3 separate regions of the Homo sapiens genome follow, and all the other regions are linked to region 2. Evidence: fine-mapped expression QTL. A gene starts in region 2. Each other region holds a variant in brackets. All regions are shown on one strand. Distances are between the middles of the regions.

What was found. PIP is the estimated chance that this variant, and not a neighbour inherited with it, causes the effect. A credible set is the group of variants that fine-mapping cannot tell apart.
Region 1: its variant is the best candidate, but not a certain one, in a credible set for the expression of CABP5 in whole blood (TOPMed, PIP 0.84).
Region 3: its variant is the best candidate, but not a certain one, in a credible set for the expression of CABP5 in whole blood (INTERVAL, PIP 0.62).

What each region holds. Positions count from the first base shown.
Region 1 is chr19:47,872,565-47,877,788 of GRCh38, reverse strand. SULT2A1 (sulfotransferase family 2A member 1) reads left to right here. Exons shown (of 6, transcript NM_003167.4): 5 at 2,955-3,132. Among named protein-coding and RNA genes, the nearest start is that of LINC01595, 5.8 kb to the right of the region's middle. The variant C/G (reference allele first, on the strand shown) is at 2,827.
Region 2 is chr19:48,041,621-48,046,844 of GRCh38, reverse strand. It overlaps CABP5 (calcium binding protein 5), which reads left to right and starts at 2,766. Exons shown (of 6, transcript NM_019855.5): 1 at 2,766-2,985. The coding sequence starts at 2,923.
Region 3 is chr19:47,896,900-47,902,123 of GRCh38, reverse strand. No RefSeq gene overlaps it. Among named protein-coding and RNA genes, the nearest start is that of SNAR-A12, 8.2 kb to the left of the region's middle. RefSeq lists a silencer at 4,958-5,224 and an enhancer at 4,958-5,224. The variant AC/C (reference allele first, on the strand shown) is at 2,442.

The DNA of each region.
Region 1 (5,224 bases), 170 kb after region 2:
GCTTGAGTCCAGGAGTTCGAGACCAGCCTGGCCAACATAGCAAGACCCCATCTCTACTAAAAATACAAAAAATTAGCCGGGCATGGTGGCAGGCACCTGTAGTCCCAGCTACTTGGGAGGCTGAGGTAGGAGAATCACTTGAACCCAGGAGGAAGAGGTTGCAGTGAGCCGAGATCACACCACTGCACTCTAGGCTGGGCAACAGAATGAGACCCTGTCTCAAAAAAAAAAAAAAAGAAAGAAAAAGAAGGCTGGGCACGGTGTCTCACACCTGTAATCCCAGCACTTTGGGAGGCCAAAGTAGGGGGATCACTTGAGGTCAGGAGTTCGATACCAGCCTGGGCAACATGGCGAAATCCCATCTCTACCAAAAATATAAAAAATTAGCCAGGCGTGGTGTTGTGCACCTGTAGTCCCAGCTACTCAGGACCCAGCTACTCAGGAGAATCGCTTGAACCCAGGAGGCGGAGGTTGCAGTGAGCCGAGATCATGCCATTGCACTCCAGCCTGGGCAACAGAGCAAGACTCCATCTCAAAAAAAAAAAAGAACTTGACCTATTAGTGATATCTCACATAAAAGAGAAAATAACACCAACATTGGATTTTGTACCACCTGGGAAACGTCACGTCCCAACACCTTCCTCTGGCTCATCCTCTCCAATCCTCTATGGCCTATGGTCTGGGCATGAATTTCTTTTTTTTTTTTTTTTATGAGGTGGAGTCTTGCTCTGTCGCCCAGGCTGGAGTGCAGTGGCACGATCTCGGCTCACTGCAACCTCCGCCTCTCGGGTTCAAGCGATTCTTCTGCCTCAGCCTCCTGAGTAGCTGGGACTACAGATGCACGCCGCCATGCCCAGCTAATTTTTTTTTGTATTTTTAGTAGAGACAGGGTTTCACCATGTTGCCCAGGCTGGTCTCGAACTCCTGAGCTCAGGCAATCCTCCCGTAGGCCTCCCAAAGTGCTAGGATTACAGGCATGAGCCACCGCGCCCGGCCATCTTTTTTTTTTTTTTTTTTTTTAGACAGAGTCTTGCTCTGTCACCCAGGCTGGAGTGCAGTGGCGCAATCTCAGTTCATTGCAATCTCCACCTCTCCGGTTCAAGTGATTCTCGTGCCTCAGCCTCCCAAGTAGCTAGGATTACAGGCATGCACTACAACACCTGGCTAATTTTTGTATCTTTGGTACAGATGGGGTTTCACCACGTTGACCAAGCTGGAATGAATTTCATTTCTGTTAAGAAGCCCTTTGTAACAAGTTTGGTTGGCTACCTCAGATACACGATCCCATACCTTCCTGGGATCTTCCTTTCGGATCACACAATGAACTTATTTTAGTTATTTCCATAGTTGTACATCTTCTTATTAGATAACCAAGGTTTATGAAATAGAGGAAAAAATTAAAGCATTATAGATCTAAGAGTAAGGCCTATGATTCAAAGCAAAGTCCTTCTGGTTACAATAATCCATTTTGTTGGCCAGGTGCGGTGGTTCACATCCATAATCCCAGCACTTTGGGAGGCTGAGGTGGGCAGATCACCTGAGCTCAGGAGTTGGAACCCAGCTTGGCCAACATGGTGATACTCCCTCTCTACTAAAAATACGTAAATTAGCCGGGAGTGGTGGCGCACGCCTGTAACCCCAGCTACTCGGGAGGTTGAGACAGGAGAATTGCTTGAGCCTGGGAGGCGGAGGTTGCAGTGAGCTGAGATCATGCCACTGCACTCCAGCCTGGGCGACAGAGTGAGATCTTGTCTCTAAATAAATACATAAATAAAATTTTAAAAATAAAAATCTATTAATCTCCCAGGATCATGTACCTAGTCCTAATTATTGAGATGAAATATAAGAAGATATTGTAAAACTCTGTGTGTTATTCAAAAGCTAGTTATGGGAAACAGTACTATCTGACAGTACAGCCAGGATTTGAAATCAAGCCTTCAATCTCCATCAGATTCTCCCTGAACCTCTCCTTGCTAACCCTAATTACTGTCTAGAAGCCTCTCTAAACGTCTCTTAGGAAACCCGAGGCTCTGTGTTTTACTGTTAAGTTGTCCTAAACTCTACCATACGGGAAAATCCACGATGATCCTTGCATCTTTTGTGGTTTTCTGGTTGGTTTTGTTTTGTTTTGTTTTGCTTTGTTTTGTTTTTGAGACAGGGTCTCACTCCAACGCCCAGGCTGGAGTACAGTGGTGCAATCACAGCTCACTGCAGCCTCAACTTCCTGGGTTCAGGTGATCCTCCCACCTCAGCCTCCCAAGTAGCTGGTACCACAGCTGTGCGCCACCATGCCTGGCTAATTTTTGTATTTTTTGTAGAGACAGGGTCTCACTATATCGCCCAGGCTGGTCTAAAACTCCCGGACTCAAGTGATCCGCCTGCCTCAGCCTCCCAAAGTGCTGGAATTACAGGCAGGAGCCACGGCGCCCAACCCATCCTTGCATCTTTTACATACTTCATGCCCTCTCTTCTTTACCTTTTTTCTTTCTTTCTCCTAATTGCATTCAACTCAATCCCTTCTCACATCTGCATGTTGTTCCTCTCTTCTTCCTCCTCCTCCTCATTCTGCGGTTCCCTCCTTCTCATCTTACTTTTTTCTATTGTCTTTTTTTTTTTTTTTTTTTTTTTTTGACAAGGTCTCACTCTGTCACCAGGCTGGAGTGCAGTGGCGTGATCTCAGCTCACTGCACCCTCCACCTCCTGGGTTCAAGCAACTCTCCTCCCCCAACCTCCCGAGTAGCTGGGATTACCGGCGCCCACCACCACACCCTGCCAATTTTTGTATTTTTAGTAGAGATGGGGTTTCACCACGTTGGCCAGGCTAGT[C/G]TCGAACTCCTGATCTCAAGTGATCCAACCGCCTCAGCCTCCCAGAGTGCTGGGATTACAGGCGTGAACCACCACGCCCAGCCTTGTCTTTCTCTTTCGTATCCTCTCTCTTGATTTTTCTTTTTTAGGACACAGGAAGAACCATAGAGAAGATCTGTCAATTCCTGGGAAAGACGTTAGAACCCGAAGAACTGAACTTAATTCTCAAGAACAGCTCCTTTCAGAGCATGAAAGAAAACAAGATGTCCAATTATTCCCTCCTGAGTGTTGATTATGTAGTGGACAAAGCACAACTTCTGAGAAAAGGTAAAAGAAAATCCTCTGGTTTCCAAATATACCAGAATACACGGCATGCATGCCTATGGTCACAACTGGGCGCTAACAGTTGAGATGAAAGAGTGCTTTTTTTTTTTTTTTTTTTCCGAGATGAAGTCTTGCTCTATCACCCAGGCTGGAGTGCAGTGGTGCGATCTCAGCTCACTGCAACGTCCGCCTCCAGGATTCAAGTGATTCTTCTGCCTCAGCCTCCCGAGTAGCTGGAAATTACAGGCACACGCCACCACACCCAGCTAATTTTTGTATCTTTAGTAAAGACATGGTTTCACCATCTTAGCTAGGCTGGTCTCGATCTCCTGACCTTGTGATCCGCCCACCTCGGCCTCCCAAAGTGCTGGGATTACAGGCATGAGCCACGGCGCCCGGCCAATTTATCAGCTTTAATTGCTCATCGCCCAGAACACTTCTCCCGTGGCCTCAGCAGGGAGCCTCTTCTTGTGGTACTGATGTGGGCTGTAGGTGGGTGGGGAAAATTGGTTCCGCCCGGGAAGGTTATCTGACTTACGTGAGGTCATTCAGATTCTCTTTCCTCAGAATGTGACATGAGCATTATCCATTCTACAGACAGTGAGCAGGTTAACTAGCAACCCTTGCTAGACCTACAAGCTGTGATTCACCTGAGAAATGAGGACAAGGACGGGGTTGGGGATGGCCACAGTGCAGCTGCCCCACTGGTGAGTTAGCATAGAGATCTGTCCTGGATGGGCCGGGTGCGGTGGCTCATGCCTGTAATCCCAGCACTTTGGGAAGCCGAGGCGGGCGGATCACAAGGTCAGGAGATCAAGACCATCCTGGCTAACATGGTGAAACCCCATCTCCACTAAAAATACAAAAAATTAGCCGGGCATGGTGGCGGGTGCCTGTGGTCCCAGCTACTCGGGAGGCTGAAGCAGGAGAATGGTGTGAACCCAGGAGGCGGAGCTTGCAGTGAGCCAAGATCGTGCCACTGCACTCCAGCCTGGGCGACAGAGCAAGACTCCGTCTCAAAAAAAAAAAAAAAAAAAAAAAAAAAGAGATCTGTCCTGGATGAAGAAATGTGTGAAGGAATGCCTCACCTGGAAAAGGGAGAGAAGAGAGACTTTGCTATCACACGCTGTAAGGTGCCAAGATGAATGGAAATGTCTATTGCATGGGGTGAAAGAATCCATTTTTCCAGGGCCAGGCGTGGTGGCTCATGCTTGTAATCCCAGCACTTTGGGAGGCCAAGGCGGGTGGATCACCTGAGGTCAGGAGTTCAAGACCAGCCTGGCTAACACGGAGAAAGCCCATCTCTACTAAAAATACAAAAAATTAGCCAAGTGTGGTGGTGGGCGCCTGTAATCCCAGCTACTCGGGAGGCTGAGGCAGGAGAATCACTTGAACCTGGGAGGAGGAGGCTGCAGTGAGCCGAGATCCTGCCATTTGCACTCCAGCCTGGGCAACAAGAGTGAAACTCCGGCTCAAAACAAAAATCCATTTTTCCAAAATCCTACAGTTCTAATACATCTGGGACAGTCCTCCGTGGAAGAAAAGAATTAAATCCTTCAAAAGACCCAGAGTCTTGGGCAATCGTAAAAGTAAACGTTGGCCGGGTACGGTGGCTCACGCCTGTAATCCCAGCACTTTGAGAGACCAAGGCAAGTGTATCACTTGAGCTCAGGAGTTCGAGACCAGCCTGGGCAACATGGTGAAACTCTGTTTCTACTAAAAATACAAAAATTAGCCATGTGTGGTGGCGCCCACCTGTAGTCCCAGCTACTTGGGGTGGGGCTGAGACATGAGAATCGCTTGAACCCAGGAGGCAGAGGTTGCAGTGAGCCGAGATTACAACACTGTACTCCTGCCTGGGAGACAGAGCAAGACTCCATCTCAAAAAAAAAAAAAAAGATAAATGCTGAGACTTTGTATAACTTATCTATATTAGGGATACATACCATACACATACACCACAGAAAGAAAATACACAGAACCTGTCCTACATGATATGTGTTATGAGGCGAAATACAGCAAGGATGGGGAGTGACCTCTAAATTGGGTGGTGAGAGAGAACCTCGCTGAGAAACTTGAATTGGAATAAAGACTT
Region 2 (5,224 bases):
AACCTGCATGTTCAGCACATGTATCCCAGATTTGAAATAAAATTCTTTTAAAAAAGGGGGGGGGATTTAAAGACAGAGACAGGCATGTATACAGAGAGGAAACCATGTGAACATGGAAGCAGGGATTGGGGTGAGGCTCTACTGACCAAGGGCCGCCAAACTATTGCCAGCAAACCACCAGTCATCCGAAAGAAGACCTTGATAGCAGAAGGATCCTGTTCAGAATTCTGTGTTGCATTCAGTCGTAGCTTTTTTTTTTTTTTTTTTTTTTTTTTGGACAGAGTTTTGCTCTTGTTGCCCAGGCTGGAGTGCAATGGCACGATCTTGGGCTCACTGCAACCTCCGCCTCCTGGGTTTAAGCGATTCTGCTGCCTCAGCCTCCCGAGTAGCAGGGATTACAGGCATGTGCCACCATGCCGGGCTAATTTTTTTGTATTTTTAGTAGAGACGGGGTTTCTCCACGTTGGTTAGGCTGGTCTCGAACTCCTGACCTCAGGTGATCTGCCCACCTCAGCCTCCCAAATTGCTGGGATTACAGGTGTGAGCCATCGCGCCCAGCCTCGGCCATGTCTTCTTAGTCTCCTCCAATCTCGAACGGTTCCTCAATCTTTCCTTGATTTTCATGACCTTGACATTTTTGAAGCTTACAGGCCAGTTATTTTGTAAACCATCCCTCCATGTGGGTTCGTCTGACGTCTGATTATGATGAGATTCAGGAATCTTACAGAAGCGATGCTGTTCTCGTGACATCCTGTCAGGTGGTGTGAAATTCCAACTTGTCACATTACTGATGATGTCCACTTTCATTGACTAAGATGGTGTTTGCCACGTTTCTCCACTATAACGTAACTCCTTTGAAATTGGTATTTTGTAGGGAGGTATTTTGAGCTCTGTAAATATCAAACTTCTCACTTAGCTTTTTATTTATCTGAGTATGGACTCCTGGTTTCTTCTGTGGTCCTGTATAATTTGTTACTATCATTATTTATTTTGACTCTCAAACTGCCCAGTATGGCCAATGGAGCTTCTTCAAGCAGACTCCTGTGTTCTTTCCACATGTTCTCACAACACTTTGAGCAATTTCTTGCTTTAAGCATAGGACGTTTGTAGGCTCATCTTGTTCTTTTTTTGCTCTAGACATGGAATCAGCCAAATTTCCTAGGCACTCTGGTTCCATTTGGTGGAGAATGGTATATAGAAGTCAAGATTTGGATGCTAGTGGTGCTCATTCATATGGGCCATCATTGTTTCTATGTTCTCTTAGTGGAGAGAGCTAGAGAATATGTGTACAAATGTTCCTATACACACTGAAACTATGTGTTTATTTTTATCTCTCTATGTATAATTGAGATCCATGAGGACATACCAACGCCTCCAGTTATAGTCCAACACCACAGGGCTCATTCGACTTTCCTCCTTTCTGTCTTAGTAACTCCCTTTTCCAACAGTAGGAGACCTGGCCCCCATTCCCCTTACTCACTGTGTGTAGCCAATTTCCCTTTTCCTTTGCCATTTCACCCCTGTGGGGATGTCTTTCCCAGCCTAGTCTGGCTTCAACACCATACACCATGCTATTCCCATGAGTGGACATTTCTCTCTCTGCTTGGGTTATGACAACCCATGCCAGATCCCCTCTATGTGGCCTCCTTCCTAATTGCCTTACAGTGCAAACCTCCACCCCAGACAATGCCTGCATATAAATGCCCCCGCCCCACTCAGCTCATGTTCCAACACTGCACACCAAGCTGCCCATCTGTGGATTTATCCCCACCATCTCCAGCCCCAACACCCTGGGTCATGCTGCCCCTCTATGTGGACTTCTCCTCACCCCACTACCCCACTGGAATGCTGGCTCTCCACGCCAGATGGCCCCCAGCCCCCTCCTCCCCTAACCCTACCTAGTGTGGAGTCGCAAAACCCCTTTGGGCTTTGACACCACCATAACTTCACACCCTCCCTGACACCCCCACCTTGCTTTTTCCCTCTAAATCATTCAGGAAAGACAGAAGGAAAGAGATGAACAGAGGAAGAGCAAATGCCATGCTCTTAGTCACCGTGTACGCCCACTTCCTGAAGTCCATGCTTGCATCCTGCTCACTCTCACACATTCCCGACTCACCCAGGAAAACTCCCTGAGGCCAGGGGTGCTGAGCTCTCCATCTCACTGCCCAGAGGCCAGTGTTGGAGTGACCCTTCACATGCTTGTTGGAACATTGAATAAATGATGCCGTCTGCTCTAATCCTCCATTTTCTTTTCTTTTTTTTCTTTTTTTTTCTTTTTTTCGAGACAGGGTCTCACTATGTCAGCCAGGCTGGAGTACAATGGTGCAATCGTAGTTCACTGCAGCCTGGAGTGCAATGGTACAATCATAGCTCACTGCAGCCTTGAACTCCTGGGCTCAAGCAATCCTCCCATCTCTGCCTTTGGAGCAGCTGGGACTACAGGTGTGTGCCACCATGCACGGCTAATTTTTTTATTTTTTGTAAAGACAGCCTCTCCGTATGTTGCTCAGCTGGTCTCAAACTCCTGGGCTCAAGCAATCCTCCCACCTCAGCCTCCCAAAGCGCTGGGACTACAGACATGAGCACCACATCCAGCCTCTAATCCCCATTTATAAAATGCACTTTCCAATTCCACTCTGGGGATAAAGGCGTCACAGAACCTGACTCTGCATTTCCCCACCCATATCATTCAAGCCAGATGGGGAGGCAGGGACAGCTCTGGTCCCTCCCCAACCCGGGTAGAGATTTCCAGCCCAGCTGTCACAGCTCTAAGACACCGGGACCGAAGGAGAAGCCAAGAGAGGCAGGAAGAGGTGGCAAAGGAGTGCTGGAGAAGATAAGGAGGCTGAGCTCCGACAGGGAGCAGGGAGGAGGGGCCATCTTGAGACTGGTGCCCTGCGAGCTCCACCCCACCCCTCCATGCAGTTCCCCATGGGCCCCGCCTGCATCTTCTTGAGGAAAGGCATTGCTGAGAAACAGCGGGTGAGGTGGGGAGTGAGGGGGAAGGGCGGTGGGCGGGGCAAAGGGAGCAGGGGTGTGGGACAAAGAAGGGGACATGATGGTGCCACAGAACCAGGGGAACAGGTGGATAGAGCAGGAGCTGAGAAGGTATAAGAAATTCCAAGGACCCTGGTGGGGTCATGTAAGCCAGTGAGATAAATGGGTGGGGGTAAAATCAAAAGTCAGGAGCAAAGAGAAGGAGAGAAAAGGAAGAAAAATGAAAAGGGAAAGTGGGATGATGTCATTGTTGAGATTACCATCATTCTTTTCTATGGATGCTCATTGTGATAATGGTGGTGATGATGGTGGTGGTGGTGATGATAATGATGACGTTAATAACAATAGCTGCCACTTATTAAGTCATTGTTCTGTGCCCAGCCCTGTGCAAAGGGATTTGCACACCTGATGTTATTTACACCTCAGAACAACTCATGAGGTCAGTGACTTTCATTCCCATTTTACAGGTGAGGAAAGTGAAGCTCTGAGTCATGAAGTCATTTGCCTTAAGCTTACACAGTTAGTAAGTGGCAGGGTCGGCCAAGTATAGTGGCTCATGCCTGAATCGCAGCATCTTGGGAGGCAGAGGCGGGAGGATCACTTATGTCCAGGAGTTTGAGACCAGCCTGGGAAACACAAGACCCCATCTCTACTAAAAATACAAAAAAATAGCTCAGCATGGTGGCATGCATCTGCAGTCCCAGCTACTCAGGTGGCTGAGGCAGGAGGATCGCTTGAGCCCAGGAAGTGGAGGCTGCAGTGAGCCCTGATTATGCCACTGCACTCCAGCCTGGGCAACAAAGTGAGACTTTGTCTCGTTAAAAAAAAGTAAGTGGCAGGGTCGGGTTTGCTTGATTCCTGTGGGCATGCTTTTTAAAATTTTTTTATTTTTCCATATATACCAACTTGTCCAGATATGTGGGCATACTTTTCATTGTTAGGCTTTAAGATCACCAAAAAAAGAGAATAAAAAAGGCCAGGCAGTGGCTCACGCCTGTGATCCCAGCCCTTTGGGAGGCCAAAGCAGGTGGATCACGAGGTCAGGAGGTCAAGACCAGCCTGGCCAAGATGGTGAAACCCTGTCTCTATTAGAAATACAAAAATTAGCCGGGTGCAGTGGCAGGCGCCTGTAATCCCAGCTACTCGGGAGGCTGAGGCAGGAGAATCGCTTGAACCCGGGAGGCAGAGGTTGCAGTGAGCCGAGTTCGTGCCACTGCACTCCAGCTTGGGTGACAGAGCGAGACTGTGTCTCAAAAAAAAAAAAGAGAGAGAGAATGAAAAAAAGGGTGATAAGGGACCGCAAGGAGGGGATCAGATGAAAGAGAAGCTGAGGGAAAGGCTCCAGGGATAAAGGGAGATGGGAAGGCTAAAGAGACCAGAGGTCAGTAGAATTTCCTTGTTAACATGCCATGTATATGTAAGCCCAACCCTTCAGGTATGTGCAGGAGTAGGTGGGGCAGCAATAACTGGACATTCTCAGAGTGTTTAGGAACTGGTCATGCTGGCACTGACCCTCCTGCCTGAAAGCCATTGAATGCTGTTTCCATGCACAGAGATTCTAACCTTTGGCAGGAAGATTGGAGGCAGGTGAGAAAGGAGTGAATGGGGGCTAGTGTGAAGAATTCTGACTTGGGAGTCAGGAGCCCTGAATTCAAATCCCAATACTGTGTCTGACTTGCCCCATGACCTCCAGGGAGCAGGTGAATGCCTTCCTCCCTTGGGAGGGGATCTGCTGCTTGTGAGCTGTGTGACCTTGTGCAGGTTCCTTAACCTCTCTGTTCCTCAGCTTTCTCATGGGTAAGATGGAAACGAGATGTAGATCTGCATCACAGAGCAGTACTGAGGTTTAAATGAAATGATTGTGGAAACTGCCTGGCACAGAGTCACCACTCTGAATGAGTTAGCTGTGGTTGTGAAGTCTCACTTTTTTCATCTGGAGATTGGACTCCCCAGTGTTTAAGACCCCCTTTGACACAATGTGATGGGTGTTTGTCTCAGAAAGGGAGAAAAAGGGAGATTGGGATTCGTGGGTGGGAGAGAGACATCGAGAGGGGGGTGGGGAGCCAAGAACTGTGGAACAGGAGTCAGGAGATGGGAAAAGGAATGGGAGGGATGGAGGAGGAGAGAGAGAATGGAAAGAGAACCACGAGAGCGTGGGGAGGAGCTTGGGAGAACAAGGAGACCCTTTGGAGAATGGGTGACCCTCTCTCCAAATTCCCTCTCA
Region 3 (5,224 bases), 140 kb after region 2:
TGGATCACCTGAGGTCAGGAGTTGGAGACCAGCCTGGCCAACATGGTGAAACCCCATCTCTACTAAAAATACAAAATTAGCCTGGAGTGGTGACACATGCCTGTAATTCCAGCTACTCGGGAGGCTGAGGCAGGAGAATTGCTTGAACCCGGAAGGCGGAGGTTGCAGTGAGCCGAGATCTTGCCATTGCACTCCAGCCAGGCAATAAGAGTGAAACTCCCTCTCAAAAAAAACAGAAAAAGAAAAGAAAAAAAAACGAACTCACTGTTTCTGGATTCTGTCCTCCCTAACAGGCACCTTACCTTAGAGAGCCTAGAACCCTCAAGGTCCCCAAGGATGTGTGGGATTTGAGTACCGTTGTTGGACATCTTCAGCTTTGTGCAATAGAACTGATGAACATCAACTAATAGGGAAGGCCCACGTAGCTCTGGAGGAAGCGGGGCCATGTAGAACTAAAGAGCACTGTATTAGCTTCCTGTGCCTGCCAGAGCAAACCACCACACTATCGTGGGTTATTCTCTCACAGTGCTGGAGGCCAGAAGTCCAAAATCAAGGTATCGGTCAGGCCACATTCCCTCTGGAGGCTCTGGGGAAGGATCCTTCCTGGTCTCTTCCAGCGCCTGGTGGCTGCAGACCTTCGGTGGCTTATGGCTGCAACACTCCAGTCTCTGCCTCCAACTTCATGTGGCCTTCTACTCTGTGTGCCTGTGTCTTCTCCTCTTTTTTATCTCATAAGGATACTTGTTATTGGATTTAAGGCCCACCAGGTAATTAATGATACTCTCATCTTGAGATTCTTCACTTGATGCCATCTGCAAAGACCCTTTTTCCAAATAAGGTCACATTGGTAGGTTCCAGAGGTTGGGACGTGAACGTATCTTTTGGGGACCATAAGTCACAGATTACAAACACAGACTTGGAATGAAAGTGCCTGGGATCAAATCCCAGCTCTGCCACTTAGGAGCTACATGACTTCGTAAAATGATTAACCACTCTGAACACCCCCTTTTTTAACTCTAAAATAGAGATAATAATAGTTCCCTGGTATGTATGAAAGCATTTATGAAACATCAAGTATTGGCATTTTGTCCTCACTCCTACCTGACTTTATATATTTGATTTCAACTCAACCTCAGATTCATTTCTCAGATGTGATCCATTGAAATTTCAGGTTGTTCTATGTTAGTGAAGATATTTCCCTCCCGACACATCAAGCGCTCAAGCCTTTCTGCCCTCACCTCACTGCAGCATTGAGAAAACCAGTTGTTTAAATTAAGTGAAATTTGGCCTAAAGCTGCCTCCTTATGTGGCAAACTGTAACCTAACAATATATAAACAAACTTCAACCAAACTTAAGAGTAGATGGCTGGGCACGGTGGCTCACGCCTGTAACCTCAGCACTTTGGGAGGCCGAGGCAGGCAGATCATTTGAGGTCAGGAGTTCAAGACCAACCTGGCCAACATGGTGAAACCCCCTCTCTTTTTACAAAAAAAAAAAAAAATTAGCCGGGCATGGTGGCGTATGCCCGTAGTCCCAGCTACTCGGGAGGTTGAGGCAGGAGAATCGCTTGAACCCGGGAGGCAGAGGTTGCAGTGAGCCGAGATCCTGCCACTGCACTCCAGCCTGGGTGACAGAGCAACACCCTGTCTCAAAAAAAAAAAAAAAAAAAAAAGAAAGAAATAATTGAGGGAGTGAGGCTACAGATAATGATATATGAAGCAATCCCACTGGTTAAGCACTTAATCTCCAAAGGTGTTCGTATTTTGTCACAAAAGGTATATATGTAGTCAGAAGAACAATCATATAGAATAAGAGAGAAATTCTGAATTCTGTGTTGAGAACTTACTGTGTTTGGTTTCTGTCCTCCCTTCCTAACATCTTCAATAGCCTGAAACCTTAGCTCCATTAAGGACATCTGGGCACTGGTGCATGTTTTAGGGATCTTAAATTGAGTCTGGGCTTATATGCAGAGGGGAAATTATTGGACAAGATGGGGCCCAGCCCATAGTTAGTGTTCGTATAATTCACCGAGTATCAAATAAATGAAAGGATCAGAAGAGTAAATCTGTGGCATAGGATAAGGGGACAGTTAGCACTCTCCAGGGAAACAGAATCAACAGGAAAGTGATTGATTTCAAGAAATTGGGCTGGGTACGGCGGCTCATGCCTGTAATCCCAACACTTTAGGAGGCAGAGGTGGGTGGATTGCATGAGGTCAAGAGTTCAAGACCAGCCTGGCCAGTATGGGGAAACCCCGTCTCTACTAAAAACACAAAAATTAGCTGGGCATGGTGGCGCACGCCTGTAATCCCAGCTACTTGGGAGGCTGAGGCACAAGAATCGCTTGAACCCAGAAGGCGGAGGTTGCAGTGAGCTGAGATCGTGCCACTGCACTCTAGCCTGGGCGACAGAGCGAGACTCTGTTTCAAAAAAAAAAAAA[AC/C]ACGGCAGGGAGGAGTAAAGAAATTGACGAAATTGACTCATGCAGTTGTAGAGGCTGGCAAGTCCAAAATCTGTAGGGCACGCTGGAAGTTTGGAAGCTTAGAGAGGATTTGATGCTGCAGTCTTCAGGCAGAATTTCTTCTACAGGAAACCTCTTTATGTTCTTAAGGCCTTCAACTGATTAGCTTGGGCCCACCCAGGTTATCGCCATTCATCTCCTTTATTTAAAATCAACTGATTGTAGATGTTAACTGTGTCTACGAAATACTGTCACAGCAACACCTAGGCTAGCATTTGATTAAACAAGTGGGTACTGGGCCGGGCACAGTGGCTCATGCCTGGGAGGCTGAGGCAGGTGGATCACCTGAGGTCAGGAGTTCAGGACCAGCCTGGCCAACATGGTGAAACCCCGTCTCTACTAAAAATACAAAAATTAGCCGGGTGTGGTGGCGGGCACCTGTAATCCCAGCTACTCAGGAGGCTGAGGCAGGAGAATTGCTTGAACCCGGGTGGCAGAGGTTGCAGTGAGCTGAGATTGTGCCACTGCACTCCAGCCTGGACGACAGGGCAAGATTCTGTTAAAAAAAAACAAAAAACTGCGTACTGCAGGCTAGCCAAGCTGACACAAAAGTCTAAACATCACAGACATCATCAGGGTCAACCGGTAGAAATTAAAGGACTTAAATTAGTGTTTCAGTAGGCATGCTTGAACCGGAATAGACACTGTGGGGGGAGGGGCGTGCAGAGTTCTGTGCATCGACTGCTGACTGCTCAGAGTCAGGAAACAAACCATACATATTCTGTTTGCCCCATCTGGGCTATGCCACTATAGTGTCTTGCAATACATCCTAACAATTAGGAACCCTATTAAGGTTGGTGCAAAAGTAATTGCAGATTTGCCATTGAAAGTAATGGCCAAAACCACAGTTACTTTTGCACCAATCTATAGATTGAAACGAGACTGATGATTCCCTCCCTGGAGTCTTATAAACAGGATGGGAGCCATCCAGGCAGTTAGAGGGATTATACTTCCTGGGGGTGGGGGACTAAAATAGAAGTCCACAATAAAACCATTTCCTGGCTGGGCGAGGTGGCTCATGCCTGTAATCCCAGCACTTTGGGAGGCCTGAGTCAGGTGGATCACCTGAGGTCGGGAGTTTGAGACCAGCCCGACCGACATGCAGAAACCCCGTCTCTACTAAAAATACCAAATTAGCCACGCATGGTCGCGCATGCCTGTAATCCCAGCTACGCAGGAGGCTGAGGCAGGAGAATCGCTTGAACCCGGGAAGCGGAGGTCGCAGTGAGTCGAGATCGCGTCATTGCACTCCAGCCTGGGCAGCAAGAGCAAAACTCTGTCTCAAAAAAAAAACAAAAACAAAAACAAAACAAAACAAAAAAACCCATTTCCTATCATCCAGCAGATACCAAATACAGAGCGCATTCAACCTCAGGCATTTGCTTCCTAACTCCTACAATTTGATCTATTTCCTTCTACAAAAAAATTACGTGCACAGCGTCAGAAGGGCAGTGAAAAATGAGGAATGTTCCACTTCTGTTGTTGCCAGGGCGTTCCTAAATATCCTGCAAATGCAGGAGTCCTCTGCCAACGGGTGCTAGCGCTCAAGGCTTTGGCCTGGAATCAGTGTGAAACTTCTGTTCTCTCTTCCTGCAAATCCAGATGGAGCCCCTGGATCATAAAATAAAAACGGGACCAATGTCCAGGAATGGCTCCTATTAGGTTGGTGCAAAAGTAACTGCGGTTTCTTGGCTGGGTGCAGTGCCTCACGTCTGTAATCCCACCACTTTGGGAGGCTGAGATGGGTGGATCACCTGAGGTCAGGAGTTCCAGACCAGCCTGGCCAAAATGGTGAAACCCTGTCTCTACTAAAAATATAAAAATTAGCTGGGCATGGCAGCGGGTGCCTGTAATCCCAGGTACTCGGGAGGCTGAGGCAGAGAATTGCTTGAACCTGGGAGGCAGAGGTTACAGTGAGCTGGGGTTGCATGGTGAAATCCCATCTCTACTAAAAATACAAAAATTAGCCAGGCATGGTGGCACATGCCTGTAATCCCAGCTACTCAGGAGGCTGAGGCAGAAGAATCGCTTGAACCTGGGAAGCGGAGGTTGCAGTGAGCTAAGATCGTGCCACTGCACTCCAGCCTGGATGACAAAGTGAGACCCCACCTAAAAAAAAAAAATCAATAAAAATAAAAAGGCCGGGCATGGTGGCTCACGCCTGTAATCCCAACACCTTGGGAAGCCGAGACGGGTGAATCACGAGGTCAGGAGTTCAAGACCAGCCTGGGCAACATGGTGAAAACCCCATCTCTACTAAATATACAAACATCAGCTGGGCATGGTGGCAGGTGCCTGTAATCCCAGCTACTCGGGAGGCTGAGGCAGAGAATTGCTTGAACCTGGGAGGCAGAGGTTGTAGTGAGCCGAGATCATGCCACTGCACTCCAGCCCGGTCAACAGAGTGAGACTCCGTCTCAAAAAAAAAAAAAAAAAAAAGTAATTGCAATGTCATAAATGTAATGGCAAAAACCGCAATTACTTTTCCACCAACCTGATGGAAGTAGATCCTGGTGCGTTGCCCAGGCATGCCGTTTATAGGTAAATGGAAAGGGCAAAGGTACACAGGGAGATAACTAGATAGCATGAAGCCCTGATCTCAGGTCTTTGTCAGCTTGTGGCAGGTGGAATTAAGCCTATTTAGCAGAAACTCAAAGGCACACTTCCCCTGCTGTACAGTGAACACACGCATTTGTAGAGCTTG